Regions from separate parts of the Homo sapiens genome. Here region 2 is linked to region 1. Evidence: fine-mapped expression QTL. A gene starts in region 1. The other region holds a variant in brackets. All regions are shown on one strand. Distances are between the middles of the regions. Region 1 holds the start of TOMM6 (translocase of outer mitochondrial membrane 6). Region 2 overlaps USP49 (ubiquitin specific peptidase 49).

Region 1 (5,120 bases):
TCTTTCTGCCACCAAACCTCACTATTCCAGCAATGATGCCTCCCTGGTGTCTGGAAAACCCATCTGGTGCACTAAAATGCTATGCAACACCAAATGGCTTCTTCCCCTAATATTGCTCAACAATGTAAATTCTTCAAGAATAAACTTCATGCTAGGTTAACATCAATGTATGGTTACAGCTTCCTTTTTTTTTTTTCCCTTTTAAAATGAAGCAAACCACCTCCATTAAAATCCATGTTTTGGGGCTTGTTTTTGTCTCTCAAGTGTGAAATATAAATCATGTTTTTATGATTTTTGTAAATCTTTTTACACCTTGTTTTTGTAAGCAAAAGTTTCTTATTAAAAGAATAAAATGACTGCCTTTGTGTGCGGTATTTATTTCAAATGTTTTTTAAAACAGCACTGTTATTTCTCAGGACAAGAGCAAAAATCACCCCCTGCAGAAGCTTGGGAACTATGTACAGAACTTTACAGAATAGAGGCAATACTTTAGCTTAAGCCTGTCTGCTGACCAGAGAATGGAATTCTGCGTGGACTCAAGGAACAAAAGGAAACTAGGCAGGGAAGGGGAAGAAAAGTGCCCATCTGAATCAAACTTCAGCTGCCATCAGGGCACATCTTGTGGTGGTCACAGATTGTAGGCTGTTTTTTGGAAGATTCGGGTTCAGCACAGGATTCCATTTGTCTGCAATCAGATGATAAGACGACAGGTGGCATTAGAACTGTAAAAGTATGGGAGGGAAACTGGTAAGAGATACTTAAATCCCTTTCAACATCTGAAAACACATTTAACTAGGAATAGTTAAGGGTTTTACATCACATTCTTTTGTACATTTCATGAATACTTGACAGAAAACATTGCTTCACCCAGTCTCTAGGTCTCCTAAGACACGCATGGGTGTAGTTCAGTGCTTACCTACTTGGCTACACCCCTGGCTGAGGTGCCATGAGGTCAATGTCACTCAAGTTCCTGGCCAGCCAAACTCCCGCAGCAAAGAGTCCCAAATTTAGTATCAAGTTCCTGGAAAAACAATGTGTTTTATTAACCCTGTGGTCACTGAGTCAGTTGTACAGTTAACGAAATGTACTGGGGGGAAAGGCTTCCATCACCACCTTCCCGAGGCGTTGATACGTGGTTGTGACGGCAGGTTGCTCAAGACCCACGTGGGAATTTGGAGTTCATTTTTGTGCCTAGTAAGTGTAAGGTCAGGCTGGGCGCGGTGGTTCACGCCTGTAATCCCAGCACTTTGGAAGGCCAAGGCAGGCGGATCACGAAGTCAGGAGCTCGAGACCAGCCTGGCCAACATGGTGAAACCCCGTCTCTACTAAAAATACAAAAATTAGCTGGGCGTGGTGGTGCGCGCCTGTAATCCCAGCTACTGGGGAGGCTGAGGCAGGAAAATCGCTTGAACCCGGGAGGCGGAGGCTGCAGTGAGCTGAGGTCCGCCACTACACTCCAGCCTGGGCGACAGAGCGAGGCTGTCTCAAAAAGAAATAAATGTGGCCGGGCGCGGTGGCTCACGCCTGTAATCCCAGCACTTTGGGAGGCAGAGTCGGGTGGATCGAGAAGTCAGGAGTTTGAGACCAGCCTGCCCAAGATGGTGAAACCCCGTCTCTACTAAAAATACAAAAATTAGCTGGGCGTGGTGGCGCGCGCTTGTAATCCCAGCTACTGGGGAGGCTGAGGCAGGAGAATCGCTTGAACCCGGGAGGCAGAAGGGGCAGTGAGCCGAGATTGCGCCTCTGCACTCCAGCCTGGGCGACAGAGTGAGACTCCGTCTCAAAAAAAAAAAAAAAAAAAAAAAAAAAGGCCGGGCGTGGTGGCTCACGCCTGTAATCCCAGCACTTTGGGAGGCCGAGGCGGGCGGATCACGAGGTCAGGAGATCGAGACCATCCTGGATAACACGGTGAAACCCCGTCTCTACTAAAAATACAAAAAATTAGCAGGGCGTGGTGGCGGGCGGCCGTAGTCCCAGCTACTCGGGAGGCTGAGGCAGGAGAATGGCGTGAACCCGGGAGGCGGAGCTTGCAGTGAGCCGAGATCGCGCCACTGCACTCCAGCCTGGGCAACAGAGTGAGACTCCGTCTCAAAAAAAAAAAAAAAACAAAAAAGAAATGTAAGATCAAACGCAAAGCCCAGCTAAAGCACTAGTCCAGGGCCGAAAAAGCCTGTTTACGTGCTAGCACTTCTTCCCTTGATCAGGGTGACATTACAGATACAGCCACATGACAGAAAGATCGCTTTTGCCACACGGGAACTCTCCTGGCCAGGGATCTCAGTGAGGCACAGCCAGAGCTACGAAGACGCCACAATGCTGGTAATGTTAAAAAACAAAAACAAAAAACCCTGAGGCGCCAGCCTCGCAAGAAAGGGGAAATACGGATTTAAGGGCCAGAAAAGGACCAAGTTCCTCGGGCTCGGTTACCTCCGGAAGTCATTCCTATCAGTGGCAAAGCGGTAGACGCCCCGAAGCCAATCTCCCACGTTGTCCGGTATTTCGGGAGTTTCATTAGCCGAGCCAGCAGCGCTCACCGGGACAGTGCTGGAAGCCATAGTGGAAAGCTTCGCATGGGCCTCGGTGGAGGAACCGTATCGGCGTCGCCGGTGAATGACGCACCTCCGGTCTGGCACTTCCGGCTGCTACCGGCCGGCAGTGGGGGCGCTGTTCGCTTAGTCCGACATCCGGAAGAGGGACGGCCCTCTGCTGCGCCTCCACGAACTCTAGGAGGGGAGGAGCGCGGCCCGGTTCTACGGTCCCCTGCTCCCGGTCCCACCTCCGGCTCTCCAGCCGGTAACTGTCACGCGTGCTGTGATCATTTAATTGGCTTGGGAGGAGGATGGTGGGGACGGGGCTGTCCCAGCCTGTGGAGGTGGGGGTAGGGGCTATCTCAGCAGGGGAAGCGTAGCTTTGGGGAATGGGTTTTGCCAAGAAAGTCTCCGCCAAAAGTCTTAGAACGCGCAGTACTGAAGGGGGCGCACTCCAAACTTGTCACCTCGCCGCCTCTTGCGGGCGTGCGCCTGACTGCGTCTCAGTCTAGGATTGTTAGGGGGAGGCTAGCCTTGTTCTCCCGCTTTACAGACCCCTTTCCTCCCACTCACATCCCCTCTCTGAGCTGCGCCACTAGCACATGGTGCAGTGCGTCTTAGAGGCGTTGCTGTCCTCTGCTTGGAGGCTTCCGGGGGTCTTCCAGGACTGGGGAAGGCGCTCGCCTAAGAAAAATCCTTCAGGTTCCGAGTCAGAGGAGGAGGAGCAGGTGGAGAAAGGGGTGTCCTTGGGATCACGAATAGTCTCCAGGCGGCATTGCTCCTGCCCTTTGGGTGCCTCCGCTTTGTCCCCAGGTCGGTTCTCCTGCTGGGGACTGGATCCAGGCAGCCCCCTCTGAGTTTGCAGGCTGGAACCGCCGGCAGCAGCGAGGAGTGTTCGGGAGAGGGTTGCAGAGTTCACCGAGGTTTGGTCCCTTCCTTCAGTTCGGTCGAGTCCAGTCTCCCCTGTTCCGGGCCGGGTCGGAAACGCTGGTCTCAGAGCCGCGGAGCTGGACCTACACCGCAGCTAGTGGGGGTGAGGCCCAGCCTCCCGCCCCGCCCAGCCCCTGGGCCGTGCGCGCCGCCGCCGCCGCCGAGAGTCCTCGCCAGGGTCCCCCGCCTCCACCAGAGGGCGTCCGCCTCCCGCGCCTGGGAGGGAGTCTGGCGCCGCAACCCCGACCGCGGCGCGGGGTGGGTTCGGGCGGCCCTTGGAACGCTCCGGCCAGGGATGCGCGGTGAGAGCTGCGGGCCCCGAGGCTTGGGTCTGGGGGGTGCGGTGGGGGCGCTCCTGGAGGGACGGGACGGCGTGGGACCGGGGCGAGGGTCCCAGCCCGGGAGAACCCCCACAGCCCAGCCCAAGCTCCCTCCCGCTTTGCTCTGCATCCTCTCCCTTACCAAGGAATGCCTGCCCTTCCAGTGCCCCGGCCCAGCTCGAGCCTGCATCCGAGTAGCGGTTCTCGAAGCAGCTGGGGCAGCAGGGGCTTCCCCCAGGCAGGGCATAACGTCCCCCGCCCAGAGGCCCGGCGCAGTCCTGGCAACAGAAGTGGTTCTCATGCCAGCGCTGTCCCTCCGCCTCGGTGCAGCGCCAGGAGAAGATCAGCTGGGAGAGGGAGAGGGAGAGGGGAACGTTTCATTCATTCATTCCCTCATTCATTCATCCAGTAACCACGCCTTTTACCCAGTTAACGCTAAAGCACGTCTGCACACATTCCCATTTAATTCACTCAGCCACTTTTGGACGCAGGGAGGACTGATTGGCTTAGCCAGGATCCCAGCTAGCAAGTGGGACAATCCCCAGTGCGACCTGGGGGTCTGGACTCCCAACCCAGGGCTCCAGGCTTCCTTTTATGCTGACATCAAGGGAATTTCTAGCATGATGAGGCACAGCACTGGGCACTCGGCATCTACTGAGATGAGCATGTGTCCAAGACTCCCTGCTCTAGAGAAATTCGATGAGTCCAGGAACATTTGAGGGACTCTGCAGTGGGGGAGGCCAGAGAGAAGGGCACTGGGTCCTACATGCCCAGAGCTCAAGTCAGAACACAGGGAACTTGGTAGTCCCAGGCTGGTTCCTACTTCTCCCCACTCCCTGATACTGGGAGAAACTGTGGCCCAGGAGAGTGTCCCTTTGTATCCTGCCACTCTGGACTCTGGGCAGACCCCCAGTTCCTCCCCTCCAGGCTGTACCTGGTCACAAGCCGGGCAGCGCGGGCGCAGCAACTCTGCATGATGACGGCCGCAGTAGAGTTGTCCATCATGGTAGAAGTAGATGAGGTTTATCAGGGCCTGGCCACAGGCCTGGCAGGCAAAGCAAGGCTGGTGCCAGCAGCGCTGTTCCCCTGCCCGGGCTGCAAACACTCCGTACTCCCCTGGCTTCAGCAGCTCCCTACACTGTCAGAGGGGAGGTGCTGAGGTGGTCGGAGTAAGCACTACCATCCTAACTTCCCTCCTTGCTCTTGCAATCCGATCCCAACCTGTTCTCGCCATACCCTAGCAAGCCCACATCCACTGCAACCTATACCAAGAGCTTGCAAACTTGGTTTCTGTTTTTCCTGTTTCCCAACCAGAATCCCAGAAGCTAGCCCAGCCCCTTCT
Region 2 (5,525 bases), 63 kb before region 1:
CTATATGAGATTGTAAACTCTGAGGTCAGAGATCTTACATTGGACAAATGTTTTAGTGCTTATCTTTTTGTGTGTGTGGTAAAAAAACATAAAATTTAACATCTTAAACCCTTCATTTTCAAGAGTACAGTTCACTAGTATTTAGTATATTTGCATTGCTGTGAAACAGTTCTAAAGTTTTTCATTTTGCAACAGTTTTCATTTTGCAAATCTGAAACTCTATACGCATTAAAAAACTCTCCATCCTCTTCCCCAGTCCCTGGCAACCACCATTCTACTTTGTCTCTATGAATTTGACTTCTTTAGATACCTCATATAAATGGAATCATACAGTATTTGTCTTTTTCCGATGGGCATATTTCATTTTGCCTAAAGTCCACAAGGCTCATTTATGTTGTAGCATGTGTCAAAATTCTCCCCCCCAGCTCTTTTTTTTTGAGATGGAGTTTCGCTCTTGTTGCCCAGGCTGGAGTGCAATGGCGCCATCTCGGCTCATTGCAACCTCCACCTGCTGGGTTCAAGCGATTCTCCTGCCTTAGCCTCCTGAGTAACAGGGATTACAGGCGCAGGCCACCATGCCCAGCTAATTTTTGTATTTTTAGTAGAGATGGGGTTTCTCCATGTTAGGCTGGTTTCGAACTCCTGACCTCAGGTGATCCATCCGCCTAGGCCTCTCAAAGTGCTGGGATTACAGGTGTGAGCCACTGTGCCTGGCCAGAATTCTTTCATTTTTAAGGCTGAATAATATTCCATCTCATGTGTATACCACATTTTGTTTATCCGTTTATCCATTGATGGACATTTTGGTTGCCTCCACTTCTTGGCTGTTATGAATAGTGCTGCTATGAACATTGGTGTTAAATATCTCAAGGTCTCTTGAAATTTCATATGAGTTTTAGAATTAATTTTTGTATTTCAGAAAATTGCTGCTGGGATTTTGATAGGGCTTGCATCGAATCTGTATATTGCTTTTGGTAGGATTAACATTTTAACAATACCAAGTCTTCCAATCCAGGAACATGGATATCTTTCCATTTATTTGTGTCTTTAATTTCTTTCCACAATGTTTTATAGTCTTCATCGTCCAAGTCTTTCACTTGCTCAGTTTTATTCCTAAGTGTATTTTATGCTGTTATTAATGAGATTTTAAAAAATTTCCTTTTGAATTGTTCATTGTTAGTGTATATAAATACAGCAGATTTTTGCATATTGATTTTGAATCCTGCAGCTTTGCTGAATTTGTCTATTCTAACAATTTTTTTGCAAACTCGTTAGGATTTTCTTTTTCTTTCTTTTCTGAGATGGAGTTTCACTCTCGTTGCCCAGGCTGGAGTGCAGGGGCACAATCTCAGCTCACTGCAACCTCCGCCTCCTGGGTTCAAGTAATTCTCCTGCCTCAGCCTCCCAAGTAGCTTGGATTACAGGCATGTACCACCACACCCAACTAATTTTGTATTTTTAGTAGAGATGGGGTTTTACCATGTTGGTCAGGCTAGTCTCGAACTCCTGACTTCAGGTGATCCGCCCTCCTCGTCCACCCAAAGTGCTGGGATTACAGCACAGGTGTGAGCCACCGTGCCCGGCCCAGGATTTTCTATATATTAGATCATGTTATCTGAGAACAGATAAATTTACTTCTTTTCTTTCTTTTTTTTTTTTTTTTTTTTTTTTGAGACGAGTCTCGCTCTGTCTCCCAGGCTGGAGTGCAGTGGCGCGATCTCAGCTCACTGCAGCCTCTGCTTCCCAGGTTCAAGCAGTTGTCTGCCTCAGCCTCCCGAGTGGCTGGGATTACAGGTGCCCGCCGCAATGCCTGGCTAATTTTTTTGTATTTTTAGTAGAGATGGGGTTTCACCATCTTGGCCAGGCTGGTCTTGAACTCCTGATCTCGTGATCCATCTGCCTTGGCCTCCCAAAGTGCTGGGATTACAGGTGTGAGCCACCTTGCCCAGCCCAGGTAAATTTACTTCTTTTCCAATTTGCCTAATTGCACTGACTAGAACTTTCAACATTATGTTGAATAGAAGTAGTGAGAGTGTGCATGCTTGGCTTGTTCCTTGTCTTAGAGAAAAGGCTTTTATTCTTTCACCACTGAGTATGATATTATCTGTGAGGGTTTCATACATGGTCTTTATGATTTTGAGGCAGTTTCCTTCTATTTATACTTTGTTTGATGTTTTGTCATAAAAGGGTGTTTTGTTGAATCTTGTCCAGTGCCTTTTTTGCATCAATTGAGATGGTCATCTTTTTGTCCTTATTCTGTTAAAGTGATGTGTTACATTGATTGATATTCATATGTTGAATCATACATGCATTCCAGAAATGAGTCCTACTTATTGATAATATGTAATTCTTTTAACATGCTACTGAATTTTCCAGTATTTTGTTGAGGGTTTTTACCTCAATACTCACAAAGAATATTCATCTGTAGTTATCTTTTCTTGATGTCTGTGTCTGGTTTAGTGTCAGGGTAATGCTGGCATCATAGAATGAGCTTGGAAGTGTTCCCTCCTCCTCAGTTTTTGGAAGAGTTTGAGAAAACTTGGCATTCATTATTTTTTAATGTTTGGTAGAATTCTCTAGTGAAGCCATCTGGTCCTGGGCTTTTCTTTGTTGGCAGTTTTTTGGTTACTGATTTAATCTCCTTACTCATTGGTTTTTTTCAGCTTTTCTATTTCTTCATGATTCAGTCTTGGTAAGTTGTGTGTTTCTAAGAATTTATCCATGGCCAGGCGCGGTGGCTTACGCCTGTAATCCTAGCACTTTGGGAGGTCGAGGTGGGCGGATCAGGAGGTCAAGAGATCGAGACCAGCCTGGCCAACATGGTGAAACCGCATCTCTACTAAAAATACAAAAATTAGCTGGGCGTGGTGGCGCACCTGCAGTCCCAGCTACTCAGGAGGCTGAGACATGAGAATTGCTGGAACCCAGGAGGCGGAGGTTGCAGTGAACCGAGATGGCGCCACTGCACTCCAGCCTGGCAACAGAATGAGACTCTGTCTCAAAAAAAAAAAAAAGAATTTATCCATTTATTCTAGGTTATCCAGTTTGTTGGTGTGCAATTGTTTATAGTAGTCTCTTATAATCCTTTTTATTTCTGTGACATCAGTTACAATTTCCCCTTTCATTTCTGATTTTATTTTATATTATTTATTTATTTATTTTTTT[T/A]TTTTTTCTTTCCTTAGAGGCTGAGTCTCACTCTGTTGCCCAGGCTGGAGTGTAGTGGCACGATCTCAGCTCACTGCAACCTCTGCCTCCCAGGTTCAAGCGATTCTCCTGCCTCAGCCTCCCGAGTAGTTGGGACTAGAGGCGTGTGCCACCTTGTCTGGCTAATTTTTGTATTTTTAGTAGAGATGGGGTTTCACCATGTTGGCCAGGCTGGTCTTGAACTCCTGACCTCAGGTGATCCGCCCACCTTGGCCTCCCAAAGTGCTGAGATTACGGGCATGAGCCACCGCACCTGGACCTTTCTTCTTTTTTAATATATGCTTTTACAACCATAAATTGACCTCTTAACACTGCTTTTCCTGTATCCCATATGTTTTGATACATTTTCATTTTTATTTGTCTCAAGGTATTTTCTAACTTCTCTTGTGACTTGTTTGATCCTGTGGCTATTTTAAGAGTGGATTGTTTAATTTCCACATATTTGTGGATTTTCCAGTTTTCCTTGTGCCATTGATTTCTAGTTTCATTTCATTGTCATTAGAAAAGATACTTTGTGCCGGGCACAGTGGCTCATGCCTGTAATCCCAGCACTTTGGGAGGTCGAAGCGGTGGATCATGAGGTCAGGAGATCAAGACCATATTGGCCAACATGGTAAAACCTTGTCTCTACTAAAATACAAAAAATTAGCTGGGCGTGGCGGCGCGTGCCTGTAATCCCAGCTACTTGGGAGGCTGAGGCAGGGGAATCACTTGAACCCGGGAGGCAGAGGTTGCAGTGAGCTGAGATCATGCCACTGCACTCCAGCCTGGCAACAGAGCAACACTCAGTCTCCAAAAAAAAAAAAAAGAAAGAAAAGAAAAGATACTTTGTGTGATTTTAGTCTTCTTGAATTTGTTAAGATTTGTTTTGTGGCCTAACATTGGTCTTTCCTAGAGATGTTCCATGTGCACTTGAGAAGAATGTATATTCTGCTGTTGTTAGGTAGAGTTCTCTATATATGTCTATTAGGTCCATTTGGTGTATAATGTTGTTCAGGTCCTCTCTTTCCATGTTGATCTTCTGTCTGGTTGTTCTGTCCATTATTGAAAGTGGAGTTTTGAAGTTCTCTACTGTAATTGTGTTGCTCTTTTACCCTTCAATTCTGTCTAAGTTTATTTCATATATTTAGAAGCTCTGATGTTTGGAGCATAAATATTTATTATTGTATATCTTCCTGGTTTACCCTTTTATCATGTCATTTTTTATCTTTTATGAGAGTTTTTTATTTAAAATCTATTTTGTCTGACATTAATATAGCCACTCCTGCTCTCTTCTGGTTACCATTTGCATGGAATATCTTTTTCCAGACTTTTCAATCTATGTGTCCTTAGAGCTAAAGTGAGTCTCTTGTAGACAGCATATAGTTGGATCCTTTTTTAACTCCAGTCAATATATGACTTTACATTTAAAGTTAATTACTGGCCCAGCATGGTGGCTCCTGCCTGTAATTCCAACACTTTGGCAGGCCAAGACAAGAAGATCACTTGAGGCCAGGAGTTAGAAACCAGCCTGGGCAACATAGGGAAGAACCCATTTCTCTCTCTCTCATTTTTTTTTTTTTTTTAGACGGTGTCTCACTGGTGTTGTCCAGGCTGGAGTGCAGTGGCGCGATCTTGGCTCAATGCAAGCTCTGCCTCCCGGGTTCACACCATTCTCCTGCCTCAGCCTCCCAAGTAGCTGGGACTACAGGTGCCTGCCACTGCACCTGGCTAATTTTTTGTATTTTTAGTAGAGATGGGGTTTCATGTTAGCCAGGATGGTGTCAATCTCCTGACCTTATGATCCGTGTGCCTTGGCCTCCCAAAGTGCGGGGATTACAGGTGTGAGCCACTGCACCCGGCCAGGGAAGACCCTATTTCTCCAAAAAATATATATATATTTTTAATTAGCCAGATGTTGTGGCATGCACCCATAGTCCCAGCTACCCAGGAGGCTGAGGCAGGAGGATTGCTTGAGCCCAGGAGGTCGAGGCTGCACTGAACCATGATAGTGCCACTGCACTGTAGCCTGGGTAACAGCGTGCGAGCCTATCTAAAACAAAACATAGGCTACCAATAGGGAGGGAAGGATTTACTATTGCCATTTTGTTAATTGTTTTTGGTATATTTTGTAGCTTTTTTGTCCCTTCTTTTTTACTGCCTTTTTCGTGTTTTGTTGATTTTTTTTGTAGCGATGTATGTTGATTCTCTTCTCATTTCCTATTATATATATTCTATAGATACTTTATTTGTGTTTATTGTTGTGATTGCATAAATCATCTTTAAAGTTACAGCATTCTGTTTTAAATTGTTAAAAACTTCATTCACATACAGAAAACTAC

What was found. PIP is the estimated chance that this variant, and not a neighbour inherited with it, causes the effect.
Region 2: its variant is fine-mapped to the expression of TOMM6 in T cells (TOPMed, PIP 0.99).

Annotation. Positions count from the first base shown.
Region 1 is chr6:41,785,133-41,790,252 of GRCh38, reverse strand. It overlaps TOMM6 (translocase of outer mitochondrial membrane 6), which reads right to left and starts at 2,559. Exons shown (of 3, transcript NM_001382294.1): 1 at 2,428-2,559; 2 at 917-1,021; 3 at 358-685. The coding sequence starts at 2,555. The coding sequence ends at 925. PRICKLE4 (prickle planar cell polarity protein 4) reads right to left here. Exons shown (of 8, transcript NM_013397.6): 6 at 4,713-4,916; 7 at 3,921-4,125; 8 at 2,801-3,491. The coding sequence ends at 3,124. USP49 (ubiquitin specific peptidase 49) reads left to right here. Exons shown (of 8, transcript NM_001286554.2): 8 at 1-357. RefSeq lists enhancers at 2,112-2,801, 1,872-2,871 and a silencer at 3,492-4,011.
Region 2 is chr6:41,848,099-41,853,623 of GRCh38, reverse strand. All of the region lies in intron 3 of USP49 (ubiquitin specific peptidase 49), which reads left to right. Among named protein-coding and RNA genes, the nearest start is that of USP49, 45 kb to the left of the region's middle. The variant T/A (reference allele first, on the strand shown) is at 3,166.